2 separate regions of the Homo sapiens genome follow, and region 2 is linked to region 1. The links come from fine-mapping of genetic effects on gene expression. Tissue or cell type: whole blood. Region 1 holds a variant in brackets; the other region holds the start of a gene. All regions are shown on one strand. Distances are from middle to middle.

Region 1 (9,003 bases):
GGGGAAGAAGGACCCACCTGTTAAGGAGGAACGCCTGGGTGTCAAATCGGTTTTGCTCATTGATGGTGTATCTGTCAGCTTCAGAACCGGCGTCCTGCATAGAGCCGCACGTGCATCGGCGCATTTTCCCTGCGGGAGGGCCGCGGCCCCACTGCGTGTGCCTCTCCTGGTGCCCTCCTGCCGGCGTCCAGCAGCCCTGGGAGACATGGGGAGGCGGGCCCTGGGCACCCTGCGCGCTGGCGGAAATGGCGCCCAGGGCCTCACTGCGCCTTTCTTGTCACAGGTTCTGTCCACGGTGTGTCCAGGAAAAGAGGAAGAAGAAGTAGGAGGAGCTGTGTGCCCGGATCCGAGGAGCAAGTTAATCTGTCCCTTCATTCGTGTCGCAATATTTCCCTTCCTTTTAAAACTACCTTGTTCGGTTGATACTTAGTAACTCCGTGGCCAGTTGAAGCGCTGGATGTTTCCTAGAACAAGAACCACCAAAGCCTGTTCGCACAGAAGGGCGACCTTGCAGGGACTCGCCGCCGCGACCTCAGTGTGGCTTTTACAGGACTCCCCCCGAGCATCAGCAGGGACCCCGGCGGACGTGGGCGGGCGCGCGTGAGCTCGGGCTGCCCGGCCGGGCGTGCGGGCGGGGACATGGTAACCTGGTCCACGGAGGGCGGCCGCCACCCTCGCGTAGCTTTCCTGTGGTTTTCCAGGACTGTCCGGTACAGCCCGGGCTCCGCGTGCCCCGCCCGCTGGAGCACCTGCCACCGAGGCGCGCGTGGGGCCACTGCCGTGGCGGCGGCTGCCCTCCTCACACTCGGCTCCGCGCCGCCTCCGGCCACCGTGCGCTCCCGCGTGGGGCGCCTCGGATGGGCCCGGGAGGGCTGGGGGCTCTTCCCTGGAGGAAGCGGCCTCCGCTTCGCTGGCGCCGCCTTTTTAGCTTGGACTTCAGTCCTCCCTCGGGGACTCACCTCCGGAGTAAACGGCTCTTCATTAGCTTGGAGTGGCCGCAGGTCCCGTGACCAGCACCCGCGAGACCCTGTGCGACAGCTGGGCTGATGCTCCGTTTCTCTGGGAATTGGTGATTTTTTACTGTGAAGATGAAATTACCCTAATAGCATGAAGATCGTGGGTCTGTGTGTCCGTGAAGTGAGTCCCGTCTGCCAGGAGCTGACGAACCACGAATGCTTCTGCCTGTGCTGTGCATTCCCAGGCCCGCAGCTCCCGGTCGAGGGGACTCCGATGTGAATTTGTTGTGAATTTGTTGTGCCACAATAGCAGTTCTGGAATGAAGCTAGGAAACTCGAGTGTGCTTTTTGTTTAATGAGCGTTCACCAAGCTGAGCCGGAGCCATCCTTTCGGTGGTAGTTGGGGAAGGCTATGCAGATTTGCTCTGTTGTGACGCGTTGGTGACGGTGCCCAGCCTGCGGTTCCCCACAGCATCGCAGGCGCTCGGAAATCCTCTCCCGTGCCTTTAGAGGAAGGAGAGGATTGCTGAGGAATGCAGGGACGCCTGTTTCTGTCCTCACACCACAGAAAGAAACCTGAGGGAAAACTGAGACGTGAGGTTCCTGATTTAAGAAGCCTGGGTTTCTTCATGGTGGGGGGCCATTTGGAATGACAGCCTCACTTCCTTCTGATGGCTACATCTGTATCTTTTCCTCCTGTGTTTAATGTTTCACTAGGGAGAGGAAATAAAGCAGAAGGAACGTGTGAAGCTCTGTGTCTCAGACGGGGCCCTCCCGTCGAGAAGCTGGTAGTCAGTGAGTGAGAACAAGAGAACAAGAACACCCTGAACAGTCCTGGTTGGGATGGTGTCCACATTCATGTTCTGCGGTTCTTGAACACACGGATGCCTCTGGGCCACCTGTCCTTTTCCGAGGGTGTGGGTGGGAGTGGATCCTCCGGGCGCAGGTGCCAGGCAGGTGCAGGCGGGCGGTCGGCCACTGCTGCTGCTCGTCCCTGCCAGTGTCTGGGCCTGAAGGGGCTCCCTCCAAGCGGTGCCTTCCTGCGGCTTAGAAGGGAAAGCGCCAGAGAGGGCAGGCTACAGTGCTTCACACCCTTCGCCACGGCTGTGAAACTGGAGATGGGTGGGTTTTGTATGTTAATTTTTTTTTTTGAGACGGAGTCTTGCTCTGTCACCCAGGCTGGAGAGCAGTGGCGTGATCTCGGCTCACTGCAAGCTCCGCCTCCCGGGTTCACGCCATTCTCCTGCCTCAGCCCCCCCGAGTAGCTGGGACTACAGGCGCCCGCCACCACGCCTGGCTAATTTTTTATATTTTTAGTAGAGACAGGGTTTCACCATGTTAACCAGGATGGTCTCGATCTCCTGACCTCACGATTTGCCCGCCTCGGCTTCCCAGAGTGCTGGGATTACAGGCGTGAGCCACCGCGCCTGGCCACCCAGCTAAGTTTGTATTTTTGTTGGAGACGGGGTTTCACCATATTGGCCAGACTGGTCTCAAACTCCTGGGGTCAAATGATCCGCCTGCGTCGGCTTCCCAGAGTGCTGGGATTACAGGTGTCAGCCACTGCGCTCAGCTGGGAGATGAATTTTCATTTAATGACTTAACTTTTTGTTAGCACAGGTTTTGTGTGTGTGTGTGTGTGTGTGTTTTGTTTTTTGTTTTGTGTTTTTGAAACGGAGTTTTGCTCTGTCACCCAGGCTGGAATGCAATGGCACCATCTTGGCTCACTGCAACCTCTGCTTCCTGGGTTCAAGTGATTCTCTTGCCTTAGCCTCCCGAGCAGCTGGGATTATAGGCGTCCACCACCACGCCCAGCTAATTTTTGTATTTTTAGTAGAAATGGGGTTTCACCATGTGTGGCCAGGCTGGTCTCGAACTCCTGACCTGAAGTGATCCACCCGCCTCGACCTCCCAAAGTGCTGGGATGACAGGCATGAGCCACCGCACCCGGCCAACACAGATGTTTATTGATCGTGGAGGATACATTGTGGAAAATGTTTTTCTCTCTTTTACCATTTTTGGGAAGAGGGATAGGTAAGTGCAGGGAGTTTGTGCTGAAACAGCGCCTGGCAATTTTTCAGAAATGAATTTGATATTGCGCTCCACCTTTGAGCTGTTCACACCTGTGGCTACCCCTGGAAAGCGCTGGGGTTGTTGATGCTTTTGGCTGCCCGGCTTCCTGAGGTCTCGCTGCTTTTTGGGGAAAGATGACTGGCTTCCCTGTGGGACGCTTTTGTCTGACACGTGATGATGTGGTCCTGCCTGCCACTGTGCACCATCCCAGGTATTGAATTTTGACCTTTTCTTTTCAAGTTTCTGTGCTTAGTGTTTTTAATGTTTACTTTTGCCACTTACAATAATATCACCAAAATAATATGCATAGAGTTTTGGAAGAAACATAGAAAACATGAGCAGAATGAGACAATTCCTTGGGCTGTAGTTTGGACCCAACTGAATCCTGAGTGCTCTGTGGCTGACGCTGTCTACCCGTGGGAGAGACACACTCAGGAGTGGCCGTTTGGCCAGAAAAGAAGGTCATGGCCCCTGGCCTGGCCCCCGCCCTGCAGGGACACAGAAGCCACACCATTTGCACCATCCACGCCTTGCTCCAGAAGGCCTGGCCGCCTTCTCCCTGGGGGTGATTCAAGGATTTGGTCTCGGACCAGACCCCCCTCCACAGCTGCCCGGCCCCAGACCCATCTCTTGGATTGAGGGTGTGTGGGCTGGAACCAGTGGGTCACTGTGGCAGCTTCATCTGAGCCGAAGGTGTGGGTCCTCTGTGGCTGTGCGATTGACCTCGATGGGAAGGAGCGTTCTACCCATTTTCCTTGTTTTCAGTGCTGCGGTATCAGTCAGTGATCTGAGGAAATCCTGTAGGGGAAGGCAGGCTGCAGTGAAAACAGGAGCTGGTGAAACCGAGCCCTCTGCATCTGCGAATGTGCCCTAGGTGCTGCTGCTGGGGACATGGATGCCAAGCGGAGGCCTGCGTGGCCTCCTGAGCAGCAGCTGAC[C/T]GCCCGTCTCATGCTGGACGGGACCCCTGGGCGGGTGGACATGAGACCACTGTTGGCCAGGGACGCCGTGCGGAGGCCTACGTGGCTGCCTGAGCAGCAGCTGACCGCCCGTCTCACTGTTGGCCAGGGCTTTGTGGCGTGGGTGTTTTCCAGTCTGCCTGGAGCAGCGAGAAGCAGCTGTGCAGACTGGTGGCGGTGGGAGGGTTTGCTGGGACTGATGGGGACACCGGCCAGCTTGTCTGGTGTCCAGCAGCCCTGCCGGACTTGGCCTCCTGTCCTGTCGTTGGGAGCCCTGGCTGGGGCTGCTTTGAGCAATGACGCTGGCCCAGAGCAGCTTCCCACATGACCCCAGAGCCGAGGGTCTGCCCTGTCCTAGGTTAGGTCTTCATGGTTTAGAGTAAAACCGTGAGGGATGTTAATTATGGGCATTGAAGACTTAAGGTTTTCTTAAATTTTTAGTGAGCAGTGATTGGCCTTCAATACTTGTGCTGAGAGGAATTTTAAGCCAGGGGAAGTGTAAGAAAATGTTCCCATTCAGGAGAGATTGTGTTGGAGTTTCTTTCTTCCTCTGTATGTATTTTGTGGTGTCCACCTTTAACCACGTTTCATCCAAAACGATGATGCAGCTTTAACATGAATGTTACATTTTTATTTTCAAGGAATTATTATCTATGTTCCCTTTGTAAAGGAAAGATAATGTTGTAAATCTTTTTATTAGATAATGTAAAGATGTATATCAGTATTTTTGGATCATGTTATAGATTATGGATATATTGTTTAATAAATAAAGTATTTTTTGGAACAAACAATTGAAAGTGCATCTGTATTAGCCCGTTTTCACGCTGCTGATAAAGACATACCCGAGATTGGGTAATTTGTAAAGAAAAAGAGGTTTTTTTTAAAAAAAATTTTCTTTTCTCTTTTTTTGAGACGGAGTCTTGCTCTGTCACCCAGGCTGGAGTGCAATGGCACTGCATGATTTCGGCTCACTGTAACATCTGCCTCCCGGGTTCAGGTGATTCTCCTGCCTCAGCCTCCTGAGTAGCTGGGACTACAGGCACGTGCCACCACGCCCTGCTAATTTTTGTATTTTTAGTAGAGATGGGGTTTTGCCATGTTGGCCAAGCTGGTCTTGAACTCCTGACCTCAGGTGATCTGCCTGCCTCAGCCTCCCAAAGTGTTGGGATTACAGGCGTGAGCCACCGCACCTGACAGAAAAAGAGGTCTGGTGGACCCTCAGTTCCACATGGCTGGGGAGGCCTCACAATCATGGCGGGAGACGAAAGGCTTATCTTACATGGCAGCAGACAATAGAAAATGAGAGCCAAGTGAAAGGGGTTTCCCCTTAAAAAAACCATCAGATCTCGTGAGACTTATTCACTACCACGAGAAAAGTATGGGGGAACCACCCCCAAGACTCAGCATCATTTTGGGAAACAGGTGTAAAATGTCAGTGTTGTGCCCAGAGACAGGTGTGTGAAATTGAATTCTGAAGGGGTATGCAGTGATTGGAGAGTGGTTTGCGGAGCTTGCTGGCTGGGGGTCTGGGGAGGACCCTGTGCCTTACCTTGGGTGGTTGCTCAGGAAGCTCAGTGGCCAGTGCTGGGGCTCAAGTTGACTTCCAAGGAAGACGTGTGAGAATGCTGCAGTTGCTTTCTTTTTTTTTTGTTTGAGACGGAGTCTCACTCTGTTGCCCAGGCTGGAGTGCAGTGGTGCAATCTCTGCTCACTGCAAGCTCCGCCTCCCAGGTTCACGCCATTCTCCTGCCTGTGTCCCGAGTAGCTGGGACTACAGGCGCCCACCACCATGCCCGGCTAATTGTTTGTATTTTTAGTAGTGACAGGGTTTCACCGTGTTAGCCAGGATGGTCTCGATCTCCTGACCTCGTGATCCGCCTGCCTCGGCCTCCCAAAGTGCTGGGATTACAGGCGTGAGCCACCACGCCCGGCCGCTGCAGTTGCTTTCTAAAGGAGTACTGTGCTTGCTCTGGAAGGGCAAGACTTACCGTGTTGCACTTGCCTTTTGGAAGCTGCTGGAGTCAGCTTAGGCTCTGTATTAGTCCATTCTTGTATTGCTATAAAGAACGACCTGAGACTGTGTAATTTATAAAGAAATGAGGTTTAATTGACTCACAGTTCTGCAGGCTGTACAGGAAGCGTGGTGCGGAGGCCTCAGGAAACTTACATCATGGCAGAAGGCGGAGGGGAAGCAAGCACGTTTTACCACGGCAGACCAGGAGAGAAAGGGAGCAAAGGGGAAAGGTGCCACACTTTTAAACAAGCAGGTCTCCTGAGAGTTCACTTACCTCCACAAGAACAGCAAGGGGAAATCTGCGCCCATGAGCCAGTCACCTCCTACCAGGCCCCTCCCCCAACATTGGGGATTATGGGCGGGGACACAAATCCAAACCATATCAGGCTGTTATCACAATACCACAGACTGGGAGGCTTAAGAAAAATGTCTTATATTTCTGGAGATTGGAAGTCCAAGATTAAGGCGCTGGGGTTGTCTGGTGCCTGTCCAGGGCTCTTCCCTTGGGTTGTGAACACTGCCTTCTCATGTGTGCCTACGAAACTGACTGGGAGAGGGAGCTCTCTGGTGTCTCTTATTTTACGGATGCCTGTCCTGTCGGATCAGGACCCCACCCTTGTGACTGACTTTAACCTTAATTACTTCTTCAGAAGTTCCATCTCCAAATACGGCCATATTGGGGGTTACAGCTTCTGCATACGAATTCTGGGGGACACAAACATAACAGGAGCTGATGGGTCTCAAGATGTTGCCTTGAGGAGTGCATTAACAGAACCCGGGAAGAGCTTGGTCATCACGAGGTACAGTCGGCCTCTCACCCACCGTCCAGGTGAAAACCAATCCGTAGACTGGAGTCCTCGCTGGAAGAGGAGGCTGAGATGCTGGGGGAAGGCCCCACAACGCCGAAACCAGCACCTGCCATCTCGCTGGAAGAGGAGGCTGAGATGCTGGGGGAAGGCCTCACAATGCGGAAACCAGCACCTGCCATCTCGCTGGAAGAGGAGGCTGAGATGCTGGGTGAGGGCCCCACAACGCTGAAACCAGCACATGCCGTATTTTCCTCCAAGCATTCTCTGAGGGTACATGTGGGCTTTGCTAGGGTGACTATGCCCTGGGAAAAAGAAAAATCAGTTGTTATTATTTTCTGAGACAGTTTTTTTTTTTTTTTTTTGAGACAGAATCTCACTCTGTCGCCAGGCTGGAGTGCAGTGGCGTGATCTCAGCTTACTGCAACCTCTGCCTCCCAGGTTCAAGCCATTCTCTTGCCTCAGTCTCCCAAGTAGCTGGGATTATAGGCACCGACCACCATGCCCAGCTAATTTTTGTATTGTTGGTAGAGACAGGGTTTCACCATGTTGGCCAGGTTGGTGTAGGGACCAGCCCCACAGGGTCGGTGGGTCTCTCCCCATGTGCGGAGACGAGAGAGTACAGAAATAAAGACACAAGACAGAGATAAAAGAAAAGGCAGCTGGGCCTGGGGGACCACTACCATTAAGTTGCGGAGACCGGTAGTGGCCCCGAATGCCAGGCTGCACTGATATTTATTGGATACAAGACAAAGGGTCAGGATAAGGAGAGTGAGCCATCTCCAATGATAGGTAAGGTCATGTGGGTCACGTGTCCACTGGACAGGGGCCCTTCCCTGCCTGGCAGCCGAGGCAGAGAGAGAGAGGAGACAGAGAGACAGCTTACGCCATTATTTCTGCTTATTAGAGACTTTTAGTACTTTCACTAATTTTGCTACTGCTATCTAGAAGGCAGAGCCAGGTGTACAGGATGGAACATGAAGGCGGACTAGGAGCGTGACCACTGAAGCACAGCATCACGGGGAGACGGTTAGGCCTCCGGATAACTGCGGGCGAGCCTGACTGATGTCAGGTCCTCCACAAGAGGTGGAGGAGTACAGTCGTCTCTAAACTCCCCCGGGGAAAGGGAGACTCCCTTTTCCGGTCTGCTAAGTAGCGGGTGGTGTTTCTTGACACTTTTCGCTACCGCTAGACCACGGTCCGCTAGGTAACGGGTGTCTTCCCAGACGCTGGCGTCACCGCTAGACCAAGGAGCCCTCTGGTGGCCCTGTCTGGGCATAACAGAAGGCTCGCACTCTTCTGGTCACTCCTCACTATGTCCCCTCAGCTCCTATCTCTGTATGGCCTGGTTTTTCCTAGGTTATGATTGTAGAGCGAGGATTATTATAATATTGGAATAAAGAGTAATTGCTACCAACTAATGATTAATGATATTCATATATAATCATATCTAAGATCTATATCTGGTATAACTATTCTTATTTTATTATACTGGAACAGCTCGTGTCTTCGGTCTCTTGCCTCGGCACCTGGGTGGCTTGCCGCCCACAGTTGGTATCGAACTCCTGACCTCAGGTGATCCACCTGCCTCAGCCTCCCAAAGTGCTGGTATTATGGGCGTGAGCCACCGTGCCTGGTCAGAAAAATCAGTTATTTTAGGGGATGGTATGGGTGGTAATCTTTATGGGTTTTGAATCATTCCTAATCCCAGGGGTCCAAGATGCCACTGGCCTGCTAGTCAAAGGGAGGGCGTGTGGAGGTCAGGTGGTAAGGGGGTCCACAGACCTCATCTGTGGTCGTCTTTCCAGTTCCTGAATGTGTAATTGCAACAGTTACCCTTGACAATGGGCAAACTCCCACACTCATCTGCAGAGCAAGGGCCAGCCAGGTAGGAAGGGCCAGGTGGATGTCTCCTTTCCAGGGTTGTATGAATGATTCACCTGGGAAGAAGGTGAGTGGCCTCTGGGGATGTGGTTAAGGAGGACAGGAATGACTCCTTGCAACTGCTGCTCCAGAGCCTCATCACCAGGACAAATCCAGCTCGCCGGTTTTCTGTGTGACTACCAGGACCCATCTGCTGTCACGGGCGTAGCCTCCACCTCTTGCACAGCTCCGCAGTCCTGCCTCGGGCCAAGTGTGGTCTCCTGCTCTCTGCCCTCATCTGCTCAGAGATTGGCATCCTCTGCACCCGCTAGGGTT
Region 2 (9,243 bases), 26 kb before region 1:
CCAGCTACTTTTGTATTTTTAATAGAGATGGGGTTTCTCTGTATTGGTCAGGCTGGTCTCGAACTCCCGACCTCAGGTGATCCACCCACCTTGGCCTCCCAAAGTGCTGGGATTACAGGCGTGAGCCACCACCCCAGCTGAATTTTTTTTTGGGGGGGGAGGGGTTTGCTCTTGTAGCCCAGGCTGGAGTGCAATGGCATGACCTCAGCTGACTGCATCCTCTGCCTCCTAGGTTCAAATGATTCTCCTGCCTCAGGCTCCCGAGCAGCTGAGATTGCAGGCCCATGCCCACCACGCCTGGCTAATTTTGTATTTTTAGTAGAGACTGGGTTTCTCCATGTTGGTCAGGCTGGTCTCAAACTCCTGACCTCAGGTGATCCACCCACCTCATCCTTCCAAAGTGCTGGGATTACAGGCGTGAGCCACCATGCCTGGCCTGAATTTTTATAATGAACATAATAGTGGCAAAAACATTGTTTCTGGTTTTCAATATTTGACTGGGGTTTAGGGAAGAGTCCACCAAGGGGGACATAGCTTGTTTTTTTAGGTGGGGGTCTCCGTCACCCAGGCAAGAGTACAGTGGTTTGATCATGGCTCACTGCAGCCTAGACCTCCTGGGCTCAAGCCATCCTCCCGCCTCAGCCTCTCATGGTGATCATACGGATTTGAGTCACAGCAGCTGGCTTAATATCTTTAAAAATGCATTTTAAATAATGAAAGTACTGCTCCTTTGATCAGCTTATGCTAATTTGTGTGACCAGCAACGTTGCATCTCGGAAGTCAAGGATGTGGCTGGGGGTGGGGCGGGGGGTTCTGGGGCCTACACGTTACATCTAGTGGTCATCAGTTCTTGGGGCTCGGGGAGCCTTTGGGACGTCCTCTTGAGATCACAGGGAGTGGAGACAGGACTGGGAAGTGACACACCTCACCCATGAAAGACCTGCCAGAGATGAGTTTGATCCCCAGCTTGGGGGCGTCCAGTGGTGAAGTGGGAAGAGGAGTGACATGGGTACTGGTGAGCACTGCATGATGATGCTACACAGTTTGGAGGCAGAGAAGAATCACCCCAAAGACTAATATTTAAACACTTTAAATTATTTTATTTTATATTTTAAGATGGAGTCTCGCTCTGTCACCCAGGCTGGAGTGCAGTGGCACGATCTCGGCTCACTGCAACCTCCACGTACCAGGTTCAAGTGATTCTCCTTCCTCAGCCTCCTGGGTAGCTGGGATTACAGGCACCAGCCATTATGCCCGGCTAAGTTTTTTTTTTTTTTTTTTTTTTTTGGGACGGAGTGTTGCTCTGTCGCCCAGGCTGGAGTGCAATGGCACGATCTCGGCTCACCGCAAGCTCAGCCTCCCGGGTTCACGCCATTCTCCTGCCTCGGCCGCCCGAGTAGCTGGGATTACAGGCGCCCGCCACCATGCCCAGCTAATTTTTTTGTAGTTTTAGTAGAGATGGGGTTTCACCGTGTTAGGCAGGATGGTCTCAATCTCCTGACCTCGTGATCCTCCCGCCTTGGCCTCCCAAAGTGCTGGAATTACAGGAGTGAGCCACCGCGCCTGCCCTATTTTATTTTATTTTTGAGATGGAATCTTGCTCTGCTGGCCAGGCTGGAGTGCAGTGGTGCAATCTCGGCTCACTGCAACCTCCGCCTCCCAAGCTCAAGCGATTCTCCTGTTTCAGCCTCCCGAGTATCTGGGATTACAGGTACTTGCCACCATGCCCGGCTAGTTTTTGTATTATTATTATTTTGAGACGGAGTCTTGCTCTTGTCACCCAAGCTGCAGTGCAGTTACATGATCTCTTCTCACTGCAACCTCCCTCTCCCAAGTTCAAGTAATTTTCCTGCCTCAGTCTCCGAGTAGCTGGGAGTACAGGCGCCCGCCACCACGCCCGGGTAATTTTTGTATTTTTAGTAGAGACATGATTTCGCCACGTTGGCCAGGCTGGTCTCAAATTCCTGCCCTCAAGTGATCCGCCCGCCTCGGCCTCCCAAAGTGTTGGGATTACAGGCGTGAGCCACCGTGCCGAGTCTGAAACATATTTTAATTATGTTTCTCCAGTATTTTTTTTTTCTTAAAATTTTCTTTTTTTTTTTTGAAGACAGAGTCTTGCTCTGTCGCCCAGGCTGGAGTGCAGACGCGATCTCAGCTCACTACAACCTCCGCCTCCCGGGCTCAGCCTCCGGAGTAGCTGGGACTACAGGCGTGCGCCACCACGCTTGGCTAATTTTTTTTTTTTTTTGTATTTTTAGTAGAGTCGGGGTTTCAACACGTTGGCCAGGCTGGTCTCAAATTCCTGCCCTCAAGTGATCCGCCCGCCTCGGCCTCCCAAAGTGATGGGATTACAGGCGTGCGCCAGCGCGCCGGCCTTCTCCAGTATTTTTGCATGCATCTTACGGCACACCTTTGCACGCCATCTTATTAACTATATCATACTGCCGCACGTGCCTTTTCGGCCAAGGCATCCAGATGGTGCGGGTCCTGCCTGCCTCGAGAGGTGGCAGCAAAGGAGCCAGTGCCCTCACTGGTGCTGGGCGGGGCGGCCGCTTTCCTCGGAGGGAAGGGGCGGCGTTGGCGGGGGAAGGGCGCCAGGGCCCAGGCCCTGAGGGAGGGGCAGCTCGCCCGGGCCACGCGGTGCCGGCCCTCGGCTCAGGCCGGGCTGAGGCCCCGGGGGCTCGGGGTCCGGGGGAAAGGCGCTGAGCCAGACAGGTCCCAAGGAGCCTTCGGGAAGGGAGGGCCTCGTGGCGGCCTGTCCGGGACCCGGCCGGGAGCAGGGGTCGCGTGGGCGCCGTCAGGACGGGCGTGAGGTCCCCGGGACCACGTGTTTGCGTTTGGTGGCCCAGGGGTCGCTGACAGGTGCGGAGGGGAGACGCCCACCTGGGTGCCCTGGGCCGCACGCCGGGCGGTGGGGCCGGGAACCCCTGCTCCTCCTCGGCCTCCGATCCGCTGCGGCCCTGGGTCCTGCTCGCTGCCCGACGCCGCTGCCACAACCTCCGCCCGGGCCCCGCAGCCCGCCGCCCGCCGGAAGCTGAAAGGCGTGTCCGACCCCGCCCCCGGGCGCGACCAATCAGCGCGCGCGACTCATGAATAGTGAGCGCGCTGGCACCGCCCCGCCCCCGCCTCCCGCGGCACCGCCCGCCCGCGCAGACCCCGAGCGCGGCCGCGGACGAAGATGGCGACCGCCATGTACTTGGAGCACTATCTGGACAGTAAGCGCGCCCCACGGGCCCCGCGCCCGCCGCCCACGCGGAGTCCTCCGTGCCGCAGCCCCCCGCGCGCCGGGCACCGCATGCAGACCCCGTGGGCTCGGGAGGGCGGCGGGCGCGGCCGGGCGCGACGGGGGGCGCGCGGACGGGGCGGGGCAGGGCCGCAAGGGAGGGGAGGGCGCGGGGGGCGGGCGCGGGGGGTCCCGCCGGCTGGGTCGCGCCAATTCCAGGTGCGTCACGGCGGGGCGGGGCCTGGCGATGCTGGGCGGGGCTTGCGGCCTCGACCCCGCCCACATATTAGGTCCCGCCCCTACCCAGGCCCCGCCTCATCTCCGCCCCCAGCTCCGGCCCCGGCCCCGCCAGGTCCCGCCCGTCCCTGTCCCGTCTGCAGGAGGAGCTGGCGCCCGCTGCGGGGCTCCGGGCCTTGGGGGCTCCGGGGTCTGGGCCTCCGCCTGGCTGTGCGCCCGTGTGCGCCGGCCTCTTGTGTGACCGCGGCTGGGGAGGGCGTGCGGGCCGCGGGGCGTCTCTCCCCGGCACTGGGGACTGCGGCGCGGAGGCGGGGAGGGCGGTGCCGAGTCGGCCCTGGTGGGCGGGCTGTGCTGTTTCCAGGTGGCAGCAGGTCGGCGCCCCCAGCGGCTGAGCGGACGGTGCTTTCCCTCACTTTACACACCAGGGAAGGTCCAGCGCTGCCGAGCAGCCTGCTCAGGGTCTCCCGCTCGTAGAGGGGCAGACCCCACGCGGGACCCCTGACGTCGGCCCGGGATGGGCACAGCTTTGGGGTCGCGGTGTTTGGGGTTGTGCCGGGTGGCTCTGGAGGGCCCTTGTGGGGGCGCTGCACTGGGGATCCTCATGGTCTTCGGCCTGGCACCCGCCCAGGGGCTGAGACAGTGGCGAGTGAGCCGTGGCCTGGAGCTGGAGACCGCTGCCCTAGAGGGACGCCCGATTCTGCCCATGTGCTCCGCTGTCTCTTGGGGGTCTGAGTAGTGGGGGGTTCCCTGGGTAGAAGAGTCAAGCTGGGGAGCACGCTGGAGGGGAGGCCTTCTCTATCCTGGTGCCCAGCCAGTGGGCTGGCCTCCCAAGGAGGGTTGACTTTGTGTGTGTCTGGGAGGCTGTGCCAGCCGGGAGGCTGTGCCTCTGTCCTCTAGGGGAGCTGGGAAAACACTGGGGCTGGAAGCATCAGATGCATAAGATAGAGTTAGGTTTAAAATGATTGCCTGGTAACTGTGAACAGCAGATGGGAGGGTGGCCAAGACTGGAGGAGGCAGCCCCCCTTAGGAGCCTGTGTCAGCTGTGCAGGGGGCGGAGGTTGGCCTGGTCTAGGGGGTAACAAAGCAGACGCGAAAGCAGCACGGGGGTCCTCCTGGCAGACTGTGGGGAATGGTTGCGCTAGCCACAGGGACTATTTAAGTAAAATTAAAAATTGAATGGCGTTAGTCCCATTTCCAGTGCTCAGTAGCTCCCTATGGCCACCACTGTCTTGGGCAGCTCAGAGAGAACATTTCTTTTCTTTTTCTTTTTTTGATTTTTTTTGAAATGGAGTCTCACCCTGTTGCCCAGGTTGGAGGGTATGATCTCAGCACACTGCAACCTCCACCTCCCAGGTTCAAGCAATTCTCATGCCCTAGCCTCTCGAGTAGCTGGGACTGTAGCTGTGCACCACCACGCCTGGATAATTTTTGTATTTTTAGTAGAGACAGGGTTTCACCATGTTGGCCAGGCTGGTCTTGAACTCCTGACCTCAACTGATTTGCCTGTCTTGATCTCCCAAAGTGCTGGGATTACAGGTATGAGCCACCACGCCCATCCGAGAGAGGAAACATTTCTATCCTTGCATAAAGTCGCGTGGGCAGCGTGGCTACACTGCTCAATGCACTGGATTTCTGGGTAAAGTAGGGGAAGATCAAGGAGGACCCAGGGGATTTTGGCTTGAGCCTTGGAAGATGCTGCTCACTGAGGGGGGGCAGCCTAGAGGGTGGGGTCAGTTGGCCTCCCCTGCCTGTGCTGTTGGTTTCCAAGTTTCCCTCTCCCTTCTTTGACTTCTGACAGCTTCCGAAGTGTGCACACAGCCTCTTGTCAGCACTGTTTGGTACCTGCATCTAAAAATGAGATCACAGTCCTTCCGCTCCGCAAACCCTGACAGAGACAGAATACAGAGTGGGCTTGTAGACTTGAAGTATAAAACTTTTGGCCAGTCCTGGTGGCTCACACCTGTAATCCCAGCACTTTGAGAGGCCGAGGTGGGCGGATCACCTGAGGTCAGGAGTTCGAGACAAGCCTGGCCAACCTTGTGAAACCCCGTCTCAACTAAAAATACAAAAACTAGCCGGGCATGGTGGCATGTGCCTGTAATCCCAGCTACTCAGGAGGCGGAGGCGTGAGAATCACTTGAACCTGGGAGGTGTAGGTTGCAGTGAGCCAAGATCGCACCACTGCACTCCAGCCTGGGCAACAAGAGTGAAACTCCATCTCAAAAAAAAAAGACAGAAAACCTTTGGAGGTGAATTTTTGTCTTGCTGCTGAGAGGTACATGGCTTCTGTGTTTTTGCGTTTCAGGTATCGAGAACCTTCCCTGCGAACTTCAGAGGAACTTCCAGCTGATGCGAGAGCTGGACCAGAGGACGGAAGGTGGGTTCAGACCTCTCCATACAACCAGAACTGAGTTCTGACAGGTGGGAGCCAGCAGCTCCTGAAGGCTGGGGGCAGAGGGTTTTGAGGGGACCCAGGTTAGTGGGGCATTGGCCTAGCCCTGGGCCGTGGGTATCACTCAGTGTCTTGCAGTAGGTGTTGATACTTTTGAAGCCACATTGTTTCTTGGGTTCTTACACATCTTTATATCATGTTTTTATAACCATCACCCTTTCCAATCAAAATATTTATTGCCAATTTTTTCTTTTAAATATTTTCAATTTTCAAAGTGTGTAGTGCGTGCATTGTTTTAAAAGTTTGGTAGTACTTTTTGGCCGTTTGATATTTAACTCCGTTTCTTTTTTTTTGAGACGGAGTCTTGCTTTGTCGCCCAGTCCGGAGTGCAGTGACGTGATCTCAGCTCACTGCAAGCTCTGCCTCCTGGGTTCACACCATTCTCTTGCCTCAGCCTCCTGAGTAGCTGGGACTACAGGTGCCCGCCACCACGCCTGGCTAATTTTTTTTTTGTATTTTTAGTAGAGACGGGGTTTCACCGTGTTAGCCAGGATGGTCTTGATCTCCTCACCTCATGATCTGCCCGCCTCAGCCTCCCAAAGTGCTGGGATTACAAGCGTGAGCCACCTCGCCTGGCCCTAACTCTGTTTTTTTCTTTTTTTTTTTTTTTTTTTTTGAGACAGAGTCTCACTCTGTTGCCCAGGCTAGAGTGCAGTGGCACGATCTTGGCTCACTGCAACCTCCACCTCCCGGGTTCAAGTGATTCTCCTGCCTCAGCCTCCCGAGTAGCTGGGACTACAGTCACATGCCACCACACCCAGCTAATTTTTTGTATTTTTAGTAGAGACAGGGTTTCACCATGTTCACCATGTTAGCCAGGATGGTCTTGATCTACTGACCTCATGATCCGCCTGCCTAGGCCTCCCAAAGTGCTGGGATTACAGGCATGAGCCACCGCGCCCGGCCCTTAAACTCCCTGTTTCTAAACAACATGTTTTTGTTGCTGTTTCTTATTTTATCTCTCGTCAGTTTTAGACGTTGTTCAGACGTATATGGCACAGGCAGCTGTACTTCTCCAGTGGCCCCCACACCCTCACATGCCCTCACCTGGCTCCCCCATCTCCTGGCTGTAGGTTGTTAGAATTTGTGGTGAGACCAGTGATGGGACTTCCATTGGGCAGCTGTGTAGGTACTTTAACACTGAGCCATGCCACCTGCTGTGCTTATATGACCTCTTTGGAATAACTTTGTGTATTTCTTAGAGTTACTCATGGCCCTGTTTGTTGGCTTTGTTTTCTGCATTCGACCCTTGTCTCCCCAGCTGGGCTTTTCCTTGTGGTCTGTCAGGCTGTCTACCCTGACAGTTCTGTGTGTGCTTTCTTTCCGCAGAGCCCTCTGTCCTGGAGGCCACAGTCCTGATTGTTTCCATGCCAACTGCACACTTGTTGCCCTGAGGTTTTCCTGGGATCTCCTTTCACCCCTCTTCAGTGTGGGACCCTCTTCCCTGAATCTTAAATGTCTTCTTTTTGCCCTTGCTCTCCTGTTTTGATAGAGCCTTTCCTTTGGTAGGTTCCTGAAAAAAAGGCACATAGGAAGGTAGATTTTCTTGGCCAGGCACGGTGGCTCATGCCTGTAATCCCAGCACTTTGGGAGGCTGAGGTGGGCAGATCACCTGAGGTCAGGAGTTCGAGACCAGCCTGATCGACATGGAGAAACCCCGTCTCTACTAAAAATACAAAATTAGCCGGGTGTGGTGGCGCACGCCTATAATCCCAGCTAATTGGGAGGCTGAGGCAGGAGAATCACTTGAACCTGGAGGCGGAGGTTGCACCTGGAGATCGCACCATTGCACTCCACCCTGGGCAACAAGAGCGAAACTCCATCTCAAAAAAAAAAAAAAAAAAGAAAAAAAGGAAGGTAGATTTTCTTGTAACATTGCATGTCTGAAAATGTGTTTGTTCTAGCCTCATACTCAGCTGATAGTTTGGTTGGGTATAGAATCCTAGGTTGACAATTGTTTTCACTCAGGAAGTTGGCGACATTGCTGCCTTGTCTCCTAGCTTCCACGTTGCTGCAGAAAATCTGGTGCCGTTTGGATTCTTGGTCCTTTATATGTGTGATCTATTTTTTTTTTGTTATTCCTATTCAGAAGCTTTTGAGATGTTTCCTTTATCTCTGAAGTTTTAAATTTCATGATAATGTGTTTTGGTGTGGCAATTTTTTTTTTTTTTTTTTTTGAGATGGAGTTTCACTCTTGTTGCCCAGGCTGGCGTGCGATGGCGCGATCTTGGCTCAACACAACCTCTGCCTCCCAGGTTCAAGTGATTCTCCTGCCTCAGCCTCCCGAGTAGCTGGGATTACAGGCATGCACCATCATGCCCAGCTAATTTTGTATTTTTAATAGAGATGGGGTTTCTCCATGTTGATCAGGTTGGTCTCAAACTCTCAACCTCAGGTGATCTGCCCGCCTTGGCCTCCCAAAGTGCTGGTATTACAGGTGTGAGCCACTGTGCCTGGCCTGAGATTTTTTATTCATTATGCTGGGCACAGGTTTGTTTTTTTTGTTTTGAGATGGAGTTTCGCTCTTGTTGTCCAGGCTGGAGTGCAATGGCACGATCTCAGCTCACCGCAACCTCCGCCTCCCGGGTTCAAGCAATTCTCCTGCCTCAGCCTCCCGAGTAGCTGGGATTACAGGCATGCGCCACCACACCCTGCTAATTTTTTGTATTTTAAGTAGAGACGGGGTTTCTCCATGTTGGTCAGGCTGGTCTTGAACTCCTGACCTCAGGTTCATCCACCCGCCTTGGCCTCCCAAAGTGCTGGGATTACAGACGTGAGTACCACACCCGGCCTGGGCACATGTTTTGCAAGACTGAGATAGCTGTGTTTTTTTCCTTAGGTACAGCATCTTGACTAGGGAATACAGAGAGTTATTTTATTGTGAAATGTAACATATATTCAGGAAATGAATGTGCAACAATTATAGATTGCTTAACAAATATTACCAGGTGAACCTCTCTGTTGTCTGCTACCGAGATGGAGAAATCAAGCCCTTTGGCACCTGAAGGCCTTTGTGACCCTCCTAGTCATGACACCCCTCCCCAACCAAGGGGTGACCATCCTGAGTTTGGTGACAGTCACCTTCCACCTTTAACAGTAGTTTTCTTTTTTTTTTCTGAGACGGAGTCTCGCTTTACCATCAGGCTGGAGTGCAGTGGCACGGTCTCGGCTCACTGCAACCTCTGCCTCCTGGGTGCAAGTGATTCTCCTGCCTCAGCCTCCTGAGTAGCTGGGACCATAGGCACGTAACACCATGCCCAGCTAATTGTTGTATTTTTAGAAGAGACGGGGTTTCACCACATTGGCCAGGATGGTTTCCATCTCTTAACCT

The links. PIP is the estimated chance that this variant, and not a neighbour inherited with it, causes the effect.
Region 2: ING5 starts here. The variant in region 1 is fine-mapped to the expression of ING5 in whole blood (TOPMed, PIP above 0.99).

What each region holds. Positions count from the first base shown.
Region 1 is chr2:241,724,706-241,733,708 of GRCh38, forward strand. It overlaps ING5 (inhibitor of growth family member 5), which reads left to right. Exons shown (of 8, transcript NM_032329.6): 8 at 284-4,773. The coding sequence ends at 326. Among named protein-coding and RNA genes, the nearest start is that of D2HGDH, 5.4 kb to the right of the region's middle. The variant C/T (reference allele first, on the strand shown) is at 3,968.
Region 2 is chr2:241,698,888-241,708,130 of GRCh38, forward strand. It overlaps ING5 (inhibitor of growth family member 5), which reads left to right and starts at 3,152. Exons shown (of 8, transcript NM_032329.6): 1 at 3,152-3,215; 2 at 5,766-5,837. The coding sequence starts at 3,179. RefSeq lists silencers at 2,446-3,265, 3,008-3,171, 3,356-3,915 and enhancers at 2,570-3,402, 3,641-4,270.